3 linked regions of the Homo sapiens genome follow. The protein of the gene in region 3 interacts with the protein of the main gene of each other region in a pairwise test. Each region holds a gene or a part of one and is shown on either strand. Other genes may lie near its edges.

The links.
Region 1: the proteins of SLC39A9 (region 3) and EVI2B interact in binary tests that used the Homo sapiens proteins (3 or more experiments, as listed by UniProt).
Region 2: the proteins of SLC39A9 (region 3) and MANBAL interact in binary tests that used the Homo sapiens proteins (3 or more experiments, as listed by UniProt).

Annotation. Positions count from the first base shown.
Region 1 is NC_000017.11:31,312,477-31,316,231, reverse strand, and holds the start of EVI2B (protein EVI2B precursor), read left to right. Parts: upstream 1-2,177; 5' UTR 2,178-2,253; intron 2,254-3,755. UniProt on the Homo sapiens protein: Required for granulocyte differentiation and functionality of hematopoietic progenitor cells through the control of cell cycle progression and survival of hematopoietic progenitor cells.
Region 2 is NC_000020.11:37,287,946-37,291,700, forward strand, and holds the start of MANBAL (protein MANBAL), read left to right. Parts: upstream 1-1,709; 5' UTR 1,710-1,741; intron 1,742-2,323; exon of another isoform or gene 2,324-2,381; intron 2,382-3,755.
Region 3 is NC_000014.9:69,436,621-69,440,375, reverse strand, and holds part of SLC39A9 (zinc transporter ZIP9), read right to left. Parts: intron 1-3,755. UniProt on the Homo sapiens protein: Transports zinc ions across cell and organelle membranes into the cytoplasm and regulates intracellular zinc homeostasis. Participates in the zinc ions efflux out of the secretory compartments.

The sequences.
Region 1 (3,755 bases), on a different chromosome or scaffold from region 3:
CTGGGTATTACAGTTCACCAGCTTAATTCAGGGATTTAAAAATAGTGAATCAGGTTAGGCACAGTGGCTTACACCTATAATCCTGGGAGGATCACCTGAGGCCAGGAGTTTGAGGCCAGCCTGCACAACAAAGTAAGAGCCTCATCTTTACAATAAATAAATAAGCCAGCCAGCGAGCATAGTAGCATGTGCCTGTAGTCCTAGCTACTCGAGAGGCTGAGGCAGGAGGATTGCTTGAGGTCAGGAGTTCAAGACCAGCCTGCGCAACACAGCAATACCCTGTCCGTAAAAACAACAATACTTCCAAAAACCAGTGAATCAAAAGCTTTATAGCATTTGATTATATTATGCTTTATAGTAGGAGCCCATAAAAAAAAACTATTCTTTTTGCACCAAGCTATAAGTACCCTGAAGTTAAGAACAAGGTCATAATAACCTGTGTTTCCCGCAGTGACCAGGAAAAAGCAGTGCATGGGTTAACACATTCCGTACCTACTATAATATGCATCATCCAAGGCACTTTACATTTATTTAATTCCACAATAAGCTTATAAATTAGGAATTATGATCTCCATTTTTCAAGAGAGGAAAGGTGACTTACTCAAAGAAATTTTTATTCAGATGGACTCACTCCTTTCAATACACTTTGTTTAGTTAACTTAAAAATTTTTTGTATTTTAAATTTTTGTGGGTACATAGTAGGTGTATATATTTAAAGGGTAATGAGATGTTTTGATACAGTCACGCAACGTGAAATAATCACATCATGGAGAATGGGGTATCCATCCCTTCAAGCACTTATCCTTTGTGTTACAAAGGATCCAATTACACTTTTAGTTATTTTAAAATGTATAATTATGGTATTAATGACAGTCACTCTGTTGTGCTATCAAATAGGTCTTATTCATTCTTTCTATTGTTTTTTGTACCTATTAACTGGTAACACCATCTCCCCAACCCCTCATTACCCTTTAGTAACAAGTTAACTTTAGTTAACTTCTTATTTAAAAAATGATCCCCAATTTATTTTATTTTCCACTGAGAAGTAACTACTTTGTGGGTAATCAAATAAATAGTTGAGAACTTGAACTCAAAAGTCACTAGTAAAATATTTGGTCAAAATAATTTAATTACAAATATACAAATGGCAAACAGGCATACGAAAGGGTACTCAGCACCACTGATGAGAGAAATGCAAATCAAAACTACAATGATACCTCATCTCACCCCAGTTAAAATGGCTTATACTCAAAAGACAGGCAATAACAAGTGCTGGGAAGGGTGTGGAGAAAATGGAACTCTCGTACGCTGTTAGTGGGAATGTAAATCAGTAAAACCACTATGGAGAACAGTTTGGTGGTTCCTCAAAAAACTAAAAATAGAGCTATCATATGATCCAGCAATCCCACTGCTAGGTATATACCCAACAGAAAGGAAAACTGTACAAAGAGACATCTGCACTCCCACTTTTGTTGTAACACTATTCACAACAGCCAAGATTTGGAAGCAACCTAAGTGTCTATAAACAGATGAATGGATAAAGAAAATATGGTACATATACACAATGGAGTATTATTCAGCCATAAAAAAGAATGAGATCCTGTCATTTGCAAAATAATGTAATTATACTTTTACCCTGGACTTTTTATATTATGAGGAAATAACATTACATTTATTGGTTACCTGCAGTTGGTGAGGCATTTATACATGTTATATTATGCTATCTTATTTAATCCTCACAATAACCCAATAAAATATTCCTTTAGAGGAGGAAACGGTGACTCAGAAGTGCAGAGTCTTGCCTAAGGTCATACAAGTAAACAGAACACATCACTCACTTCTTATGAGAAGAAATCTCACTGTAAGTGATAACCCAACTGGCAGCTTTTCTTCTTAGAACATGTAATTTTCTCTTCGGGACTCCATCCTAAATATTTAATTTACATAATCATATTACTAGAGTATCTCAAATATTTATTTACATAATTAAAAGCACTCAAATCATAGGGCTCCAAAATGTATTTCAAAATAAGTTCTGTTAAAGTAATATATTTCTTAGTCACTTTGTGGTTTATTGCACTTCCGGAACCAGCTATTGATAAACTTCCTCTTTTTCTACAGAAACTATTTCAGTTTGCTAGAGGAACATTTTAAATCTGAATTGAACCACCCATTTTCCTTTCTTAGCCAAATCACCAAAATGTCCAGTTAGAACAAGAATTTAGCATTCTGCAAAAGAAGTTAACAGCTGAGGTAAGAAAATTTTCACACAATTTGGTTTGATCTTGCTTTATATAAAATTTATTTTAAAAACTGTCATTAGTGTTTTAAACTTAAACTCTGATAGTCTAAAGATGTCTATAACAGGTTTTTGTGGTTTTGTTGCATAGAATTAAAAAATACTCAGTTCAGCTTGCCTTAGAAAAATATTTTCACCTAGGTTTGTATAAGACCTTTTAAGTTTATTTAATCTCACACACACACACACACACACACACACACACACACATATTTTTTTTTTTTTTTGAGATAGAGTCTTGCTCTGTCTCCCAGGCTGGAGTGCAGTGGCACGATCTCAGCTCACTGCAACCTCCACCTCCTGGGTTCAAGCAATTCTCCTGCTTCAGCCTCTCAAGTAGCTCGGATTACAGGCGCCCACCACCACGCCTGGCTAATTTTTTTGTATTTTTAGTAGAGATGGGGTTTCACTATGTTGCCCAGGCTGGTCTCCTACTCCTGACCTTGGGTGATCCGCTTACCTCCGCCTCCCAAAGTGCTGGGATTACAGGAGTGAGCCACCGCTCCCAGCCACAATCATATTTGTTAACCTTAGTTTTAGAATTAAAAAGAAACTATAGCCATGGCAGATAAAGCTAAGGGTTAGAAATAGAACTAGATTCCACAGGCTATGACTGAATTTATAACCTCCAAAATATTAATTGTTAAAAGTTCTAATGTACTTTTTATAGAATTTTCCTGTACATAATATAATGCATAAATTAAAATTTTTGTATCCCCTTTAGTTTGCATAGTAAGAATGGTCACTTTCACTTAATTTAGAAAGAAAAAGAAATCAGATGTGGTATTTGACTATTATTATTATACATGCTTTATTTTTTACATATAGATTTTATATTTAATAATGATGACATGAAAACATTATGGCTCATTTTAAAAGCTTACTAAGCCAAAAATGTTAGTCAATAATCAAACATGCATGCGTATATTAATATCATCTACGTGTTTATGTCACATTATCTGAGACTTTAGAACATAGTATAAGATAGAAGAAACCTATAGAATAAACAATAGAAAATTGTTAATATGCATAAAAGATGCTTGCTGTGGGTAAAATGGGCAAATAAAAACTGCAAAGAGTATTTTACATAGACTTGTAATTTCAGGGAATAATATGTTCATAGTGGGTGATATCCCATTTCAACACTTAATAAATATTCATGACTTTCTCTTAGAAGGATTTCTTCTAAGTAATTACTGTGGAAGTCAGAAAATAAAGATATTTATCTCTTTTTCAGATTAGGCTTGTCTATATATTTTTCTACTTCTAATATTTAGTTTATTTCATTATGCATAAAGTCATAAAATTATATTAAATTTTTTTCACTGTCATATTTCATAAAATTAAAAAATTTCCCATCGATCCTTATGGTGTGTTTTTGTCATAGAATCCCATACTTTTTTTTTTTTTTTTTGAGATGGAGTCTCCCTCTGTCACCCAGGCTGGTGTGCAGCGG
Region 2 (3,755 bases), on a different chromosome or scaffold from region 3:
TTTTGGAGTCTCTGGTATCTAACCTCTGTTCCTTGATCCTCTATGTATGTTATCTAGGCTGCATAACCAATTATCCTAAAACTTAGGAGCTTAAAACAATAACATTTAGTATTTCACAATTTCTGTGAGGCAGGCATTCAAGTGGCATTGCAAGGTATTTCTGGCTCAAGGTTGCTCTTGAGTTTACACTGAAGATTTTGGCCAGGCCACAGTCATTTGAAAGCTTGACTAGGACTGCTGGAGCCACTTGGCTCATACACATGGCTGGCAAGTTGGAGCTGGTTGTTGGCAGGCAGCTCAGTTACTCCCCATGCGAGCCTCTCCATAGGACTGCTTGAGTGTCTTCACAACATGGATTCCCCATGAGCAATCAAGACAGAGGAAAGAGGAAGTTGCAATGTCTTTTATGACTTTATCTTGGAACTCGTGCTCCAAGATTTCCGCAATATCCTATGGGTTATACAGGTCAGTCTTATTCTTGGTGGGAGGTGACTACAGAGGGGTATGGATATCAGGAGCCAAGAATCGTCAGGGTTTATGGTGGAGGCTGGTTATCACACTCTCATCTAGGTTTCTTTTTCTCCTACTACTTGCCCCCCACCCCTTCTTAATCATGGAACACTGTTCTTTGCCTTCAAAAAACTTATCCTGTTATATGATTACACATTCATTTAATTAGTCTGTCTCCCTCCAACGGACTGTAAGCACCACAAGGGCAGAGACTGTATGTGTCTGCTTTAGCACTGTGTCCTCAGTTACAAGGACAAAGCATAGAGTACGCGCTCAGTGAATGCTTTTTGAATGAATTATAATGATTTGCTTCTGTCTGAATTACAAGAGGTGTTTCTGTTTGTCTCCTCTCTGCATTGTAGGCTCCTAGCTCAGGACCTGGCATAAAATTAAGGAAATGAACGTGAGAAACACTTTTGAAATAGTGACAACACATCCAGATGAACATTTTGCAGGACAGCTACACACCCGTTTTAGCTCACCAGCTACCAGTTGTGACTGTGCTCTGCTCTGGGAGATGGCTTAGCTTTGCATAGGACAAAATTCTAATCTAGTTTCGCGCAGTTCTTACGAATTTGTTACAATGAGACGGGCCAAGCTATACAGCCCATTGCGATGAATAAGTAACTTTTTTTTTTTTTTTTTTTTTTTTTTGAGGAAGAGTCTCATTCTGTCGCCCAGGCTGGAGTGCAGTGGCGCGATCTCGGCTCACTGCAACTTCTGCCTCCCGGGATTCAAGAGATTCTCTTGCCTCAGCCTCCCAAGCAGCTGGGATTACAGGCGCCCGCCACCACGCCCGGCTAATTTTTGTATTTTTGGTAGAGACGGGGTTTCACCATGTTGACCAGGCTGGTCTCGAACTCCTGACCTCAAGTGATCCGTCCGCCTCGGCCTCCCAAAGTGCTGGGATTACAGGCGTGAGCCACCGTGCCCAGCCCCGAGAAGTAATTTCTTTTGTTTTCTTTTTAATTAAACAAAAATGTTGCTGAAACGAGCTGAGTGATATAGGAGCTTAAAGAATTGACAAGCTCTAGATTTCATTTCCCCAAACCTCTTTGTCCAGCTCGAACCCACAGAACAGGGACAAAAGTCGACAAAACCCAGCGGTGCCTCACCCAGAAACCTGGCAACGCGGGCGGAACAGAGCCGGTTGGTTGCTCAGTGCGCGTCACTTCCGGGACTCAGGGTCGCAGGGAACTACTTCCGGGGGAGCGGCGCGGCGGCGCGGGAGGTGAGTGCCGCAGCTTTGCGGTGGGGTGGGAACCGAGAGAGAGCCGTCCTCGGTGCGGTGGCCTGGCTTTCCCGGCCGGCCTGTCTCCAGCGGCGCCGCTTGGTGGGCCCGGCTGTCGCTCCGCTCAGGGCCTGAATACGTTCCCTCGGCGGTTGTTCGAAAGTTACTTCCGGAGGGGAATTTGAGCCCCCCGGGAGGCGGAGGGCCTCGCCTGGGGCAGCCCTGCGCTTTCGTGCGGAGGCTGGGCCAGAACCCAGGGCTCCTCATGGCCTGGTCCGGGCCTTTCCTCCCACGGGTGGAGCAGTAGGAGAACCCTGAGCTCCAGAGTGAATCTGGCCAGGGTTCGAATCCGTATGGCTCTCTTACCGTGGGCAAGTCACGGTTCCTCTCTGGCCCTCAGTTTCGTCTTCTAAAATGGACATACACGCTTGTACTGCGGGGTAAACCGAGGTGGTGAATGTAAAGCCCTTAGTAGGTGCACAGTCCATGTTTGTTGTACGAATTCTAAGAGAAGCGAGAAATGAATATGAGAAACATTTTTAAAATGGTGACAACACATTTAGATTAATAATTATATTTTGCAGGGCATCTGCACACCAGTTTCAGCCCACCGGCTACCAGTGTGACTTTGCCCAGAGAGGTGGCTTAGCTTTGCATTCTAATCTAGTTTTGCGTGGTTCTTAGGAATTTGTTTTAATGGGACGGGCCAGGCTGTACAACCCATTGCCATAAAGCGGTAACTTCTTTTTCTTTCCTTTTTTTTTTTTTAAAGCCATTCTATTTATTTATTTAGAGACGGAGTCTCTCTCTCGTCCACGCTGAAGGGCAGTGGCGGGATCTTGGCTCACTGCAACCTCCGCTTCTTGGGTTCAAGCGATTCTCCTGCCTCAGCTTTCCGAATAGCTGGGATTACAGACGTGTGCCACCACGCCCGGCTAATTTTTGTATCTTTAGTAAAGACAGGGTTTCACCATGTTGGCCAGGCTGGTCTCAAACTCCCGACCTCAGGTGATCCACCCGCCTCGGCCTCCCAGAGTGTTGGGATTATAGGCGGGAGCCACCACACCCGGCTTTTTTTTCTTTTTAATTAAAAAAAAGTTGAAATAGAGATGGAGTCTCACTATGTTTTCCTGCCTGGTCTTGAACTCCTGGAGGCAAGATATCCTTCCTCCTGGACCTCCCAAAGTGTTTGGGATTACTGGCAAGAGCCACTGTGCCTGGCCTAAAACAGTAACTTCTGACACTGGTTTCTATTCCCCAGTCTGTTTTCAGCTGAATTTTCACAATAGAATTTAAAGTTACTTCATTAGAAGCCAAGAATGGCCTACCAGCACAGTACACAACATTGGGAGATGAAGGCCTGTGGCAGTCGTGAAATCTGAGTTTTTCAGTCTTAAGAGAAGATTTAGTATTTGCTAAGTCTTGAGAGCTATACTTGTCTCAGTGGTTTTTTATTTATTTGTTTTGAAATGTTGACCCATTCTTTTTTTCCCCAATAACCTTTTTGTTTTAGAATAATTTTAGATTTACAAAGTTATCGCAAAGATACTTCAGTGAGTGCCCATATAGCCCACGTTTCCCCTATTACTAATATCTGAAATGTCACAATTACTGAACCAATATTGATACATTATTATTAACTCTAATCTGTACTTTATTCACATTTCCTTAGTTTTTCCCTAATGTCCTTTTTCTGTCCTGGTATTATCCAGGGCACCCTATTACATTTAGTCATCATATCTCTTTAGGCTCATCATCTCTGTGATCGTTTCTCAGACTTCCCTTGTTTTAGATGAACTTGAGGGTTTTGAAGATAGTACTGACTGGTCAGATATTTTGCAGAAGGACCTTTAATTAGGATTTGCCTGTTTTTGACATGAGTAAGATCAGGGTAATGGGTTTTTGGGGAGGAGGACCACTGATAGGGTTCGGCTGTGTCCCCACCCAAATCTCATCTTGAATTGTAGCTCCCATAATCCCCCCATGTTGTGGGAGGGTCCTGGTGGGAGACAAT
Region 3 (3,755 bases):
CTGAGCTCAAGTGATCCGCCCACCTTGACCTCCCAAAGTGCTGGGGTTACAGGCTTGAGCCACCGTGCCTGACACTATTCTTATGTTTTTGAGACAGAGTCTCACTCTGTACCCAGGTTGGAGTGCAGTGGCATGATATCGGCTCACTGCAACCCTGTGCCTCCAGGGTTCAAGTGGTTCTCATGCTTCAGCCTCCCGAGTAGCTGGGTTTACAGGTGTACTACATGGTGAGTTCTTGCAAGATCTGATGGTTTTTAAGGGGCCCTTCCCCTCTTCATTTAGCACTTCTCCTTCCCGCGGCCTTGTGAAGAAGGTGCCTTGCTTCCCCTTTGCTTTCCGCCACGATTGTAAGTTTCCTGAGGCCTCCCCAGCCATGCTGAACTGTGAGTCAACTAAACCTCTTTAATTGACCTTTATAAATTACCCCGGCTTCAGGGCCTTTTGTGGTTACATATGAATTTTAGGATCGTTCTATTAAGGTTTATTTGGCTTACAGTTCTGCAGGCTGTCCAAGAAGCACGAATCTGAGGATCTCAGGAAGCTTCCAATCATTGCAGAAGGGGAAGAGGAGTCAGTATTTCACAAGACGAGAGAGGGGAGGGGTGCCATGCTCTTTTAAACAACCAGTTCTCTTGTTAAATTATAGAGGGAGAACTCACTCATCAGCAAGGGGATAGCACCAATATGTGCATGACGGATCCACCCTCATGACCCAAACACCTCCCACCAGGCCCCGCCTCCAACACTGGGATCAAGTTTCAACACTAGATGTGGAGGGGACAAATATCCAAACCATAGCAAATGCCACTGGAATTATGATAGGGGTTGCATTAAATCTGTAGATCACTTTGGGTACTACGGATATTTTAACAATATTAATTCTTCCAATTCATGAACACAGAATACCTTACTTATATTTTCTCCAATTTTTTAAATCAATGTTTTATAGTTTTCAGCATATAGATCTTTTACCTCCTTGGTTAAATTTATGCCCAAGTATTTTATTTTATTTTATTTTCTGATGCTATTATTATTTTTTTAAAAATTATACTTTAAGTTCTAGGGTACATGTGCGCAACGTGTAGGTTTGTTACATATGTATACATGTGCCATGTTGGTGTGCTGCACCCATTAACTCCTCATTTACATTAGGTATATCTCCTAATGCTTTCCCTCCCCCTCTGATGCTATTATGAATGAAATTGTTTTCATAGTTTCTTTTTCAAATAGTTCATTGTTAGTGTATAAAAATGCAACTGATATTTGTATGCTGATTTTGTATCCTGCAACTTAACTGCATTTGTTTATTAGTTCTAATTTTTTTGTGTGTGGAATCCTTAGGTATTTCTATGCATAAGATCATCTCACCTGAAAACAGAGACAACTTTACTTCTTCCTTTCCAATGTGAATGCCTTCTATCTTTTTTGTCTGCCTGACTGTTCTGGCTAGGGCCCCCTATATTTTATTTAATGTAGAGTAAAGTGACAGAAAAAGCCACAGTTAATCATACCTCTATAAAGAATCTGATACATGGCATTCTTACAGAACTGATAAAAATGAGTGGGATAATCTACATTGAGCCATGGCTGACAATAGCAGTTTTGACAATACATCACATTTATATTTTCATCTTTGACCCAATAGTCTACCTTCCTAAACATACCAATTCTAACAGTCCAAAGAATTTTGAGATGTTTTCAAATTTTGGCTGCACAGTAAAGTGCTGCATTACCCAACAATCTTTGAAGTTCTTAAAACTTGTTTCTATAGACAGTTTTTTTTTACGTGAAAGCTGATAATCATCTAATTCCAGTGATTTTAGAGCTATAATTACAGAAGAGTAAGAGGTTCCTTTTTACATTAATTAGTATTTAATAATGCTTATTAAAGCATCAGAGCACTTAGTTAACATGATATACTGAGTTCTGAAAACAATGTATTATAATTATAAGGTCCACAGAAGAACGAAACCATAGGCTGTAGTAACATGTATACAAACGTCTTTCTTGAAGTACGAAGAAAAGTTGTTTTGGTCTACAATAAAGAAAGAGGGGGGTCAGGCGCGGTGGCTCATGCCTGTAATCCCAGCACTTTGGGCGGCCAAGGCAGGTGGATCACCTAAGGTCAGTTGTTCAAGACCAGCCTGGCCAACATGGTGAAACCCCGTCTCTGCTAAAATACAAAAATTAGCTATGCCTAGTGGCAGGTGCCTGTAATCCCAACTACTAGGGAGGCTGAGGCAGGAGAATCACTTCAACCCAGGAGGCGGTGGTTGCAGTGAGCCGAGATGGTGTCACTGCACTCCAGCCTGGGTGACAAGAGCAAAACTCTGTCTCAAAAAAAAAAAAAAGGGTAAGGGAAGAGGGTAAGAAAAGAGAGAGTAAAGCAGCAAAAACAAAATTACAATGATATGTCTAAACTCATCAGTATGAAGAAAGATGTAAAAAATCTGGAGACAGCTTAGCTGAAAGGTAATATCATGGTTAAGTTACTTCACAGATTTTTTTGAGTTACTCTTCCCAGCACTTTGGGAGGTTGAGGCAGGTGGATCACGAGGTCAGGAGTTCAAGACCAGCCTGGCCAAGATGGTGAAACCCATCTCTATTAAAAATACAAAAATTAGCTGGGCATGATGGCAGGCACCTATAATCCCAGTTACTTGGGAGGCTGAGGCAGAGAACTGCTTGAACCCGGGAGGTGGAGGGTGCAATGAGCTGAGATGGTGCCACTGCACTCCAGCCTGGGCGACAGAGTGAGACTCCGTCTCAAAAAAAAAAAAACAAACAAAAAAACTTCTTTAACAGAGGTATTAACATTTTACATTTTAAAAGGAATGTTGGAGACATCTGATGCTGGCCATGTTACAGTAAGAGCATTTTGACGTCAATCACCCACTGATTACAACAAAAACTGGACAAAACACACCAAAAAACAACTACTTCAGGACTACAAAAAGTAAACAACAGCAAGTGAAGGCAAGGCAGCAAAAACTTCTAGAAAAACCCTGTCTTTCCGGCCAAAGGACCAGGAAAAGAGGTTGCTAAGAGGTAGTGAAGTACAGGAAAGTCTCCCCTTTTTTTCTCTACCTCCTCTTTTTTCTTTCCTGGTCCTGCCTTTAAGGCAGCCCCAGTTGCAGAACTGCATGGTGGCAACAAAGGCAGTTAAAACCCCATCTTTCTGGCCAGAGCAAATAGAAAAAGGGATCCCAGGCCGGGCGCGGTGGCTCACGCTTGTAATCCCAGCACTTTGGGAGGCCGAGGCAGGTGGATCATGAGGTCAGAAGATCAAGACCATCCTGGCTAACATGGTGAAACCCCGTCTCTACTAAAAATACAAAAAATTAGCCGGGTGTGGTGGCAGGCACCTGTAGTCCCAGCTACTCGGGAGGCTGAGGCAGGAGAATGGCATGAACCCGGGAGGCGGAGCTAGCAAGGGATCCCAGTGGTCTGAAGTGTATGGGGGAAACCTGGTTATGCTGTTCTGCCTTTTCTGCTGTTACTTTCTTTTGATAGAAGCCCAAGTCACATGGAACTATGTGGTGGCAACACATGTAGTGTTGCATGCAGCCACAGCTCTATAGAGAAACCTTGTCTTTCTTGACAGAGGACCAGGAAAATGGGGTCTGTTTGCAAAACAATGTGGAAGGAACACTGGAGAGGAAAGAGCTGAGAGAGGGGTTCTTTAATCCTATGTATAAACGGCACAAGTCCCAGGCTCACCCCTGAACTCAGTATACACAGGACATAGCCAAAGC